Linked DNA regions of Homo sapiens. The protein of the gene in region 1 interacts with the protein of each later gene in a pairwise test. Each region holds a gene or a part of one and is shown on either strand. Other genes may lie near its edges.

Region 1 (3,750 bases):
GCGAAACTCCGTCTCAAAAAAAAAAAAAAAGAAAACAGAAGTAGACAATTTAAAGTTAAGCGTCTTTAAGTACATTTTGCCCATACCAAAGTTCTTATTTTTAATTTTATTGATACATAATAATCATAATTTCATGCTTTATCACGCAGGCACAATAATAATTGTACATATTTATGGAGTATATGTGATATTTTGATACATGCATACAATGTATAATAATCAGTAATTAGGATAGCCATCACCTCATTTATCATTTCTTTCTTTTGGGAACATTCAAATCTTCTAGCTGTTTTGAAATATACAATAAATTATTGTTAACTGTAGTCACTCTACTGTGCTATTGAATGCTAGAACTCATTCCTTCTAACTGTATTTCATACCAGAATTCTTTATTTGTGGTATATCTCTCTTTTTGTTTCTGTTTTGCTATTCTAGAAAGGCAGGTAGGGCTAGATCATATTCTCCAGGCTCATGTCATTTAGATTTCATAGAAACTCCAACTATAAACCTTTCCAGATTTCTCTGATTAAGGTGACTAAGGCTCTTTCCCTAATATTTTTAACTGAGATATAAATAATAAAGTGAAATGCCTACTTTTTTACATCTGCAAAAATATTTTATTTTCTTGTATAATCTTTATTTTATTATACACTTTATCTTGGTTTTACTTTTGCTTTGCAGAGGCATGAGATTCTAGTTTTGACACTAATGTTGATCCTAATATTTGTGAACTTGATCTCTAGCTTTCAGGATGCCAACCCGCCCCTGAAGGTTATTCCCCAACACTTCAATGGCAACAGCAACAAGTGGCACAGTTTTCAACTGTTCGACAGGTAAGTGTCATATTTAATCTAATTAAGCCCCTGTTGGATTTATTTCTGTTCTTAGACTGTAGCTGGAAAAATAAAATTTATGATCCTAAAGTATACAGAATATTCATGAATTAATTACCAAATTATTTTTATAATCATTAGACATGATACAGTTTGAAATATTTTCTAAGTTTTGTTTATTTTTATTTGTTTGTTTATTTATTTCAATAGTTTTGGGGAACAGGTGGTTTTTGGTTACATGGATAAGTTCTTTAGTGGTGATTTCTGAGATTTTGGTGCACTTGTCACCCAAGTAGTGTACTCTGTACCCAATACATGGTCTTTTACATCTCACCCCCTCCCACCTTTCCCATTTTTCAAGTTTTAGATGGTTACAATTTTGTGCAGAAACTGATTTCAGTTATCCATTTTTTGAAGAGTACCATCTAATGTCTAAGTTTTCTTCCTTTAGAATGTGAACAAACATAGAAGTCACTGGAAATCACAACAGTTGGATAGTAATGTGACAATGGTATGTAAGTTTCTCAGTTTTAAGATGTACAATGTATACCTGATTGAAAGAGTCTATATTTACTTCCAGTCGTTAAAGATTCACTTGCCTAGTCAGTGTTACTTTCATTCTCTTCAATATACCATTAATAGTAACAATTCATTACATTAGTAGCCTGGAAAGTATAGATTTTCATGACAAATTTTTTTTTTTTTTTTTTTTGAGACAGGGTCTTGCTCTGTCTCCCAGGCTAGAGTGCAGTCATGGCTCACTGCAGCCTTGACCTCCTGGGCTCAAGTGATCCTCCCACCACCGCCTTCCAAGTAGCTCGAACTTAAGGCATATACCACCATGCCCAGCTAATTGTTAAAATTTTTTGTAGAGACAAGGTCTCCCTGTGTTACCCAGGCTGGTCTCTTACTCCTGGGCTCAAGTGATCCTCCTGCCCTAGCCTCCCCGAGTGCTGGATTACAGGCATGAGCTACTGTACCCAGCCTTTCATGTCAATTTTAATTCACAATATCTTGGGGGACTTTGGATAGGTGACTGTGAAACTTCCACAAGTTTTTAAGGATTCTTCTAGACATTTACTTTCTAGGAAATAAATACATTTTCAATATTTACAAAAAAAATTGAATAAAGCCTTAATGGATTTTCCTGATGAGGTGATGGTGCCATGCAGTAAACTCACATGTTTACAGAACTTGTGAATGGATTCTGCTTCTGCTTAATGTGATGAGTCTGTGTCACAATTCCAGTGACATATAAGTGAAACCTGTCATGTATATTGTCATGCATATGTCCTATATTTTATCAGTTTAGATATAACTTTAAGCCCTTTAGTAGATATATCAGGACTACCAAATGAAAAAAGGAGTTGGAAAGATGATACATTGTCTCAGGACAGTAGTTTTTAACCTTTTAGGGGACTTCATATTCTTTCGTAGAATCTAATGAAAGCTATTTATCTTCAGAGGGAAAAAAAATGCACCTATGCACAACATTTTAGTTTCAGGTAGTTCATAGATTTTAGATTTTAGAAGCTTCCTTTAGGCAGTGCTTCCTGATATCTTTTACATGGTGACACATTAGAATAAATGACTGCTTGCATATTCTTCCTGAAACCAGCCGAAAGCTGAGAGATTCAGTATATGGCATCTCTGTATGCTTCTGCATACCATTTGGAAGCTCTGCTCCAGGAAAAGCGTGAAGGGAAGTAACTTATCACTTGCCAATGGTCATTTAACTTGTAAAAGGTATAGCTAGTCCTTCTATCAAAGAAGCATGCGCACATAAACACACAAAAGGTATGCTTAAGGTTCAAACCCAAGTTGGTCTGTCTCTAAAGCCTGTGTGCCTTTGACTATGCAATGGTGCCTTCCTAGTACCAAGGATGTATGTATGTAGTAGGGACAGGGCTAGGTAGGTAAATATATTTTTTTTCTTACTTAGCGGAAGGCCTTTTGGGTGCATGCCCACTAACTAAAAAAGAAGCCACATCAGTAACATTATGACTTGATAAAATTTTGTCAAAAATGGAAATGACCTAACATAATTGATTCAATAAACTATGGTCCATCAGAACAGTGGAATATTATGTAGCAATTTTAAGTGTTTGTCATGGCAAATGCAAACATCATATAAGTAATAAAATGAAAATGTTTTAAAGTACACTCTGAGCCAGGCACAGTGGCTCATGCCTATAATCCCAGCACTTTGGGAGGCTGAGGTGGGCAGATCACCTGAGCTCAGGAGTTCGAGACCAGCCTGGGCAACATGGCAAAACCCTGTCTCTATTTAAATTATTTAAAAAATAAAGTACACTGTGATGGCAACTGTGTGAAAACATAAACATTTGTTTATTAATTGATCCAATAATTTAAGCATGTGCTATATTTAATAATCAGGATATTCAGTACTAACTGAAACAGAAACAGCTTCTGACCTAATAGAGTGTTAGGAAAAGGTAGATAACCTTATTCCAAGACAATAGGGTTTAACTTTGTAGTGGTCTCATGTTCATCGTGAGGTTTTATTTTATTTTATTTTATTTTATTTATTTTTTTGAGATGGAGTTTTGCTCTTGTTGCCCAGTCTGGAGTGCAGTGGCACAATCTTGGCTCACTGCAACCTCTGTCTCTTGGATTCAAGCAATTCTCCTGCCTCAGCCTCCCAAGTAGCTGGGATTACAGGTGCCTGCCACCACACCCAGCTAATTTTTGTATTTTTAGTAGAGACGGGGTTTCACCATATTTCCAGGCTAGTCTCGAACTCCTGACCTCAGGTGATTCATCCTAAGGATTTAATGAAAGCTACTTATCCCTAGGGGGAAAATGCACCTATGCAAAGTAATATACAAGGTGATATGTACAAACAAAGGTTATTTTGTTAAGGAGGTTATATTGAGCTGAATGCTTCTCCCAAATA
Region 2 (3,750 bases), on another chromosome or scaffold:
CATTACCTAAGGGCAGGCAGTAGGAAGTTGCTAAGCAGAAGAGTTACACTGTAAGGTTTCTGCTTTTTTTTTTCTTTTTTTTTTTCTTTTTTTTTTTTTTTTTTAATGAGACAGGTTTCTCTGTGTTGCCCAGGCTGGTCTTGAACTCCTGGGCTCAAGCAATTCTCCCACCTCAGCCTTCCCAGTAGCTGAGATTATAGGTCTCTGCTTTTCAGGAGATAGTGGGTGGGAGCCGGAGAGTCTGGAGGCAGGAGGCCAGAGAGGAGGCAGGCAAAACAGAACAGGGCAAAGTGATGAGGTCTCACCTTAAGCAGGGGCAGTAGGAAGGGAAATAAAGTGCGCCCCTTCCTGACCTTCATCCTAGAGTTTTCCTTTTGATTTCTTTGCCTCAAGAAAATGGGCCAGGCGCACAACTAAAGTTGGCAGTTTGTTGTGACAGGCCCTTGTTCTGCTTCCAGAAGATAGATCCCTCTGTGTCTTGAAGATATAGCCTGGCTCTGTGTGTCGAGGTGGGGGACAGGAGGGCTGCCATGTCATGGAAAAAGAAAGGCCTGATATGTACTAGCCATACGTCCCGTGATTGAAAAGGCATATGAACAATAAAAGCCTCAATTTCCTCATCTCTAAAAGGGGAGATCATGTCCCTTGCTCTGTGTAACTCAATTTTTTGTTCATTCCTTTGTTTATTCATTCAATAGTTATTTATGGAGCACACACAATGTGCCAGATTCTGTGCTAGGTGCTGGAGATACGGTGGTAAACAATATAGAACCCACCCCTGCCTTCAAGGAGCTTGCTGTGAGGATAAATGAAATGATTATGAAATCACTCTGTTAACTATACTGCATGGGTCTCATTGTTTTTCTTTTTTTTTTTTAGAGACGGGGGATCTTGCTATGTTGCCCAGGCTGGTCTCGAACTCTTGGGCTCAAGCAATCTGCCGCCTCAGCCTCCTAAAATGCTGGGATTACAGGAATGAGCCACCATGTCCAGCCCATTTCTTTCTCTCTCTCTCTCTCTCTTTTTTTTTTTTTTAGAGACAGGGTCTCACTCTATCACCCAACCTGGAGTATAGTGACACAGTCATGGCACTGCAGCCTTGACCTCCCGGACTCAAGTGATCCTCTCGCCTCAGCCGCCCAAGTACAAGTGCTCATTACCATGCCTGGCTAATTTTTTTCTTTTAATTTATTTTTTGTGGAGATGGGGTCTCACTGTGTTGCCCAGTCTGGTCTTGAGCTCCTGGCCTCAAGTGATTCTCTGGCCTCAGCTTCCCAAAGTGTTAGGATTATAGACAAGCGTGAACCACCACACCCAGCCCTATTTTTCTATTTCTCATCTCCCAATAAGATTGCAACCTCAACTAGGGCTACCTACGTAGGCCTAATCAGAAAACCTGAGTTTAGTCTTACTTCTTTGTTTCCTTCTCTCCATAGCCTCATTGAGCAAGGCACTTCCCCTCTCTAGATGATTCGTTGTTCATATTCAGCCCAAGGTCTATGATTGCTGTTTTTGTTTTTAGAGACGGAGTTTTGCTCTTGTCTCCCAGGCTGGAATGCAGTGGCACAATCTCGGCTCACTGCAACCTCTGCCTCCCGGGTTAAAGCAATTCTCCTGCCTCAGCCTCCCAAGTAGATTACAGGCATGCGCCACCACACCCAGCTAATTTTTGTATTTTTAGTAGAGACCATGGGCAGGCTGGTCTCGAACTCCTGATCTCAGGTGATCCGCCCGCCTCGGCCTACCCAAAGTGCTGGGATTACAGGCGTGAGCCACAGCGCCCAGCCGATTGGTTTCAACTATTAGAAGAAGGGATAAACTGGCCCGGAGCGGTGGCTCAAGCCTGTAATCCCAGCACTTTGGGGGCGGGCGGATCACCTGAGGTAAGGAGTTCAAGACCAGCCTAGCCAACATGGTTGAAACACCGTCTCTAGTAAAAATACAAAAATTAGCCAGGCGTGGTGGCAGGCGCCTGTAATCCCAGCTACTCGGGGGGCCGAGGCAGGAGAATCGCTTGAACTCGGGAGGCAGAGTGTGCAGTGAGCCGAGATCGCGCCATCGCACTCCAGCCTGGGGGGACAAGAGCGAGACTGCGTCTCAAAAAAAAAAAAAAAAAAAAAAAAAAAAAAAGGAGGGATAAGCTTCTGGGAGAAAAAGTTCCGGGTAAAGAAATCTCACTATAAAAAAGAAATAGTAGCAGAAACAGCTGGGAACTCCTAGACACACTTAACTTTCTTAGGTATCCCTTCCAGTCTCCTCCCAACCACTCCTTTCCTATTTCATTTCCACTCCCCACCTTTAGTAGCTGCGGTCTCTTTAAGTGCGCACTTTCGGTGTAATGATAGGCGATTGGGCCAATAAAGCGTTTCGTCCTGGAGTTAACTGGTTTGTCCCTTTCGGGCTGCCGTCCTACAGATCCGCCATATTGTCTACTGAAAGCTGCCGCTGAAGCTGCCGCCGTTGCCTCCGCCGCCAAGAGTGAGCGAGCGGACCCGCGATGGGTGAGTGAGGAAACCACGCAGTAGGGTTCTTGGGCTCAGGGAGTGTCGGGGCCTGGGATTTGGCGAGAGCCTGTCTCCGGTCTGCGGAAGATGTCTGCATCCCCTCTAGCTAGGTCTGAGGGGAAAAGTCAGGCCGGGAGTGCCCCTCTTGCCAGTTTTGGGCCGAGCTAGGGCCCGTGCTGGAAGCAGTCCTTTGGTGCTGGTTTCGGGGACACCTTGGCACGCCTGGAGCCCCCCACATGGTGGCCTCGGGCAGGAGCCCACGTGTTCCTGGGAGGTAGAAAGGGGCCTACTCTCTGTCCTGCGCCCAGACTGGGGCTGGGGGACGGGCTCCCGGCGGCAGGCCTGGGCGGCGCTAAGGTAGCTTTCTCCTGGGTTGTGTTTGGCCAACGCGTGTCTTGACTAGATTCAGTGGCTCCCCTGAACTCAGGGAAGTCCTACCTACGTAGCGAGGTGGAGTCCTCTAGTGAGGGGACGTCAGGCGAGCCAGCACTAGGCCGGTAAGCATGGGCAGCCAGGCCGAGGGCAGCTTGCGCCGCTGAAGGCCGGGAGAACGGAATCAAGGCGGAAATAGTGTGGTTCGGTTGGGCTCAGAGTGGCATCGCTTGTGATGGTAGAACACCAAAGGCCAAGTCCTCTTGGCCATCTTTAGGTTGAGGACTTTAGGTTTCTGGGCTGGCCCTGGTAAGGAGAAAAGGAGCGACCTGTTGATCTTTCTGAGGGGACTCCGGCTGGCAAGGCCTCTGTTCAGAGAGAATACCATGGCGAAGTCTTTGGATTTAGAGACAGAACCAACAGTGGTAATTCCTCTAAAGCAGTAAAAATTGTGAAATTTGCTAAGCTCTTTCTACGTACGGGCATTGTTCTGATTGCTTTACATGTCTTGTTTTACTTAATTTGTACAACCTAAGGAAATAGATGCTACCATTGCCATTTTACAGATGTGGAAGCTGAGCTTTAGAGAGGTAAAGTAACTTACCCAAGGTCATGCAGTGGCTAAGCCAGGGTGAACACTCCCAAGCCTAGTTTGTAACTGCTGTTTGTTGTTGTTGTTGATAGAGTCTTGCTCTGTCGCCCAGGCTGGAGTGCAGTGACGCGATCTCGGCTCACTGCAACCTCCTGCCTCCCGGGTTCAAGCGATTCTCCTGCCTCAGCCTCCCGAGTAGCTGGGATTACAGGCACCCACCACCACGCCCGGCTGATTTTTGTGTGTTTTTGGTAGAGACAGGGTTTCGTCATGTTGGCCAGG
Region 3 (3,750 bases), on another chromosome or scaffold:
TGGCCCTGCAATGCAGAGAGACCATTCACACTAAGCAGCTGGCCACCCAGGAGTACAGGGACACCCTCGGCTGAACGGCCTGCATGCTTCAGGGTCAGACTTTGGTGGAGGGAGGTTCCCATCCGCAGGGGCCCTGGGCTTCCCTAAGGGTCCCCTCAGGAGCACCAGCAGCAGATGAGGCAGGGCCCAGTGAGCTGACTCTCACTCATCCCCCTGTGATTCCAGACAAACTCACTGTTCAGCATGGAAATCTTTATTGCCGCAATGCTTGCATCCTCCTTTGGAATTTAACTGAAGGGGAGGAAGGAGGCAAGAAAGATCAGCTTTGTAAGAGCCCAAAGAAGGGGGAAAGTGACGCAAGGCTCATGACCTACTCCAGGAATCTGGAATTCAGCTCAGAAAAGGCAAACCCACAGAGAGCCCCCCACCCAACCCTGCCAATCCTGAGTCTATAATTGGATCCCCTCTCCAAAATTGTGATATTTTGTTCATTATCAATTTTTTGCATTACTTTTGATTTTTACAAATATTGCCTTAAAATATTCTTTTTTTTTTTTTTTTGAGATGGAGTCTCACTCTAACGCCCATGCTGGAGTGCAGTGGCATAGTTTCAATTCACTGCAACCTCTGCCCCTTGGGTTCAAGCAATTCTCCTGTCTCAGCCTCCTGAGTAGCTGGGATTATAGGCGCACGCCCCCTCTCCCGGCTAATTTTTGTATTTTTAGTAGAGTCGGGGTTTTACCATGTTGGTCAGGATGGTCTCAAACTCCTGACCTCGTGATCAGCCCACCTCGGCCTCCCAAAGTGCTGGCATGCGCCACCGTGCCCGGCCTTCCTTAAAATATTATTGATCTTGACTACAGAGGGGTTGGGCATGCCCTTGCATTTGGGCCTCCCCAAGTCCAGGCTGAGTGGTCCCTGGAAGGTTAACCAGCATTGATCAGAAACGCGTTTTCCATAGTTCTTCCCAGCCAGACAGACAGGCTGCAGTGTCAGCACGGCAACTTTTGGCTGCATGACTTTGGAAAAGTTCATAACTTCTTCCAGCCTTTGTTTCCCTGGCTGTAAAATGGGCATATAGCAGTAGCCCCTTCCATAGAGAGTCTCTCTGTGAAGGTTAGATGCAGTGATCCATGAGATTAACTCTGTGCCTGGCACATAGTAAGAGTTCAATAAATAGCAGCTGTAAATGGTATTAGGCCCATATTTCCTGAACCAGCCTTCAGAATATAAGGTCTGACAAATATTTCTATATTTATGGGGATGGTGGAATTGAATATTTCAATTATGCTGTCTCAGAAATTCCTGAGTCTAGAGAACTTCTGGCAATCATTTTGTTCCAGTTGTCATCAGGAGCATGGAGCTCAGAGACCTGCCGGAGAGGTTATGGGGTGAGTTGGGCCTGGCAAATGCACCCCATATTGAGTGGCTGAGAAGCCTCCAGAAATGGAAAGTTTATTGTAAGAGGAATGTTCTCTGCGCTTCCTTCCTCCTTTGCCATCTCCTTCAACTGCTCCCCGCTCACTCCCAGTAGAATCTGGAGCTGATCTACTCAAAGAAATTATCAAGAAAGCAAGGGTTGGCCGGGCGCGGTGGCTCATGCCTATAATCCCAGCACTTTGGGAGGCTGAGCCAGGCGGATCACCTGAGGCCAGGAGTTCAAGACTGACCTGGCCAACATGGTGAAACCCTATCTCTACTAAAAATACAAAAAAAAAAAAAAAAAATTAGCCAGGTGTGGTGGCAGGCACCTGTAAATCCCAGCTACTTGGGAAGCTGAGGCAGGAGAATAGCTTGAACTTGGGAGGTGGAGATTGCAGTGAGCAGAGATCACGCCACTGCACTTCATTCAGCCTGGGTGACAGAGCGGGACTACATCAAAAAAAAAAAAAAAAAAGAAAGAAAGAAAGAAAGAGAGAGAGAAAGGAAGAAAGGAAGGAAGGAAGGAGACAGAGAGAAAAAGAGAGAAAGAAAAAGAAAGAAAGAAAAGAAAGAAAGAAGGAAGGAAGGAAAGAAAGAAAGAAAGAAAGAAAGAAAGAAAGAAAGAAAGAAAGAGAAAGAAAGAAAGAAAAAGAAAGAAAGAAAATGAACAAACGGGGAGAAAGAAAGAAAGCAGGGTTCCTGGCCTTTGGCACTTCCCCACCCTGGAGACCAGCATGGTGTTATCTTACCCAAACCACTCCCAGCCCCAGGCCAATGGGGATTAAAGACCCCTGCTGGCAGGGACAGCTGTGAGGCCACTGTTGTTTTCCCCCAAACTGTCCTTGCTACTGTGGTTGTCTTTAATTTATGGGAATGAAGGATTTTGCGGTGGTTTCCTCATGGGGTTCAAGGGAAGGTTGCGTGTGATTAGAGTGGCTACAGGTGAATCCGATCGCCCGCCTGGGAAAGCCATGGTGCTAGAACTCAGCACTGCTCCCTCCTGCTCTCACGTCCTCACTCTGCTGAGACATGCCTTTAATCAGACGTGATTTGTCTCATCCTTCTTCAGCTCCAACACGTGTGTTCCCAGAGCTGTCCTGCCCCAATTTCTCTTTGCAAGACCTGCTCTATGCCTGCCTCCGCCCAACCACAAATTTGCCTAAGGTATAAAACTCCACAAATAGGCCTCTCTCCTCTTTTCCCTCCTGATGCCCCTTTACAGGCCACCTCCCCGCCCCAGGTCCCCTCCACTACCCCTGCCACGAAGCCACACCCAGGGACTGACCTTGCAAACACATCCTGCATTTTCTTCCCCCTCTCTGACTGTGCTCTGGTGGTTTCTCCTTGCCTAGAGCACTCTCCCCTTCCCCGTACTTCTGCCTGTTGAAGTCCTACTTAAAAACCACCCAGCTCAAAAACAACCCCTTCCAAGAATATTTTTGTTCTTCTTTTTCAAAAATTTATAGCTACATTTGCATATAACATAGTATCAAAGAAAGCTACAGTTAAGAAATGTCGAAGTCTAGTATCTGCTAGAATCTGTGTTGATTTTCTCACTTTAGCTTGCAGTTGTTTCATAAAGGAACTCTTCTGAGGTTTCTTACCTGGGACATCTTATATTTGAAATCTCCTTTTTTAAAAATTGGGGTCAAATACACATAACATAAAAGTTACCGTCTTAACAGTTTTTAAGTGATACAGTACAGTAGTTGTGCAATCGATTTCTAGAACTTTTAATCTTGCAAAACCGAAACTCTATCTCCATTAAACAACGACCTTTTTTCCCTTCCCCCACCCCCTAGCAATCACCATTCTTTCTCTTGCTAAACATTTGACTATTTTAGATACCTTACATAAGTGAAATCATGCAATGTTTGTCATTTTTGTGACTGGCTTATGTCACTTGGCATAATGTCCTCAAGTTTCAACCAGGTTGTAGCAAGTGACAGGATTTTCTTCTTTTTTTTTTTTTTTTTTTTTTTTTTAGAAAGACAGGGTCTTGCTATGCTGCCGAGGCAGGTGTTGAACTCAGGGCTTCTAGCAGTCCTCCCACCTTGGCCTCCCAAAGTGCTGGAATTATAGGTGTGAGCCACCATGCCTGGCCTCCTTCTTTCTGAAGACAATAACATTCCATTGTATGGATATACCAAATTTCTTTCTTCTTTTTTTTTTTTTTGAGACGGAGTCTCACTCTGTTGCCAGGCTGGAGTGCAGTGGCGCGATCTCGGCTCACTGCAACCTCCGCCTCCCGTATTCAAGTGATTCTCCTGCCTCAGCCTCCCAAGTAGCTGGGACTACAGGCACACGCCACCACGCCCAGCTAATTTT

Evidence for each region.
Region 2: the proteins of GEMIN2 (region 1) and KPNA6 interact in binary tests that used the Homo sapiens proteins (3 or more experiments, as listed by UniProt).
Region 3: the proteins of GEMIN2 (region 1) and MEOX1 interact in binary tests that used the Homo sapiens proteins (3 or more experiments, as listed by UniProt).

Annotation. Positions count from the first base shown.
Region 1 is NC_000014.9:39,117,256-39,121,005, forward strand, and holds part of GEMIN2 (gem-associated protein 2), read left to right. Parts: intron 1-743; coding exon 744-833; intron 834-1,284; coding exon 1,285-1,344; intron 1,345-3,750. UniProt on the Homo sapiens protein: The SMN complex catalyzes the assembly of small nuclear ribonucleoproteins (snRNPs), the building blocks of the spliceosome, and thereby plays an important role in the splicing of cellular pre-mRNAs.
Region 2 is NC_000001.11:32,105,634-32,109,383, forward strand, and holds the start of KPNA6 (importin subunit alpha-7), read left to right. Parts: upstream 1-2,422; 5' UTR 2,423-2,497; coding exon 2,498-2,501; intron 2,502-3,750. UniProt on the Homo sapiens protein: Functions in nuclear protein import as an adapter protein for nuclear receptor KPNB1. Binds specifically and directly to substrates containing either a simple or bipartite NLS motif.
Region 3 is NC_000017.11:43,655,318-43,659,067, reverse strand, and holds part of MEOX1 (homeobox protein MOX-1), read left to right. Parts: intron 1-3,750. UniProt on the Homo sapiens protein: Mesodermal transcription factor that plays a key role in somitogenesis and is specifically required for sclerotome development. Required for maintenance of the sclerotome polarity and formation of the cranio-cervical joints.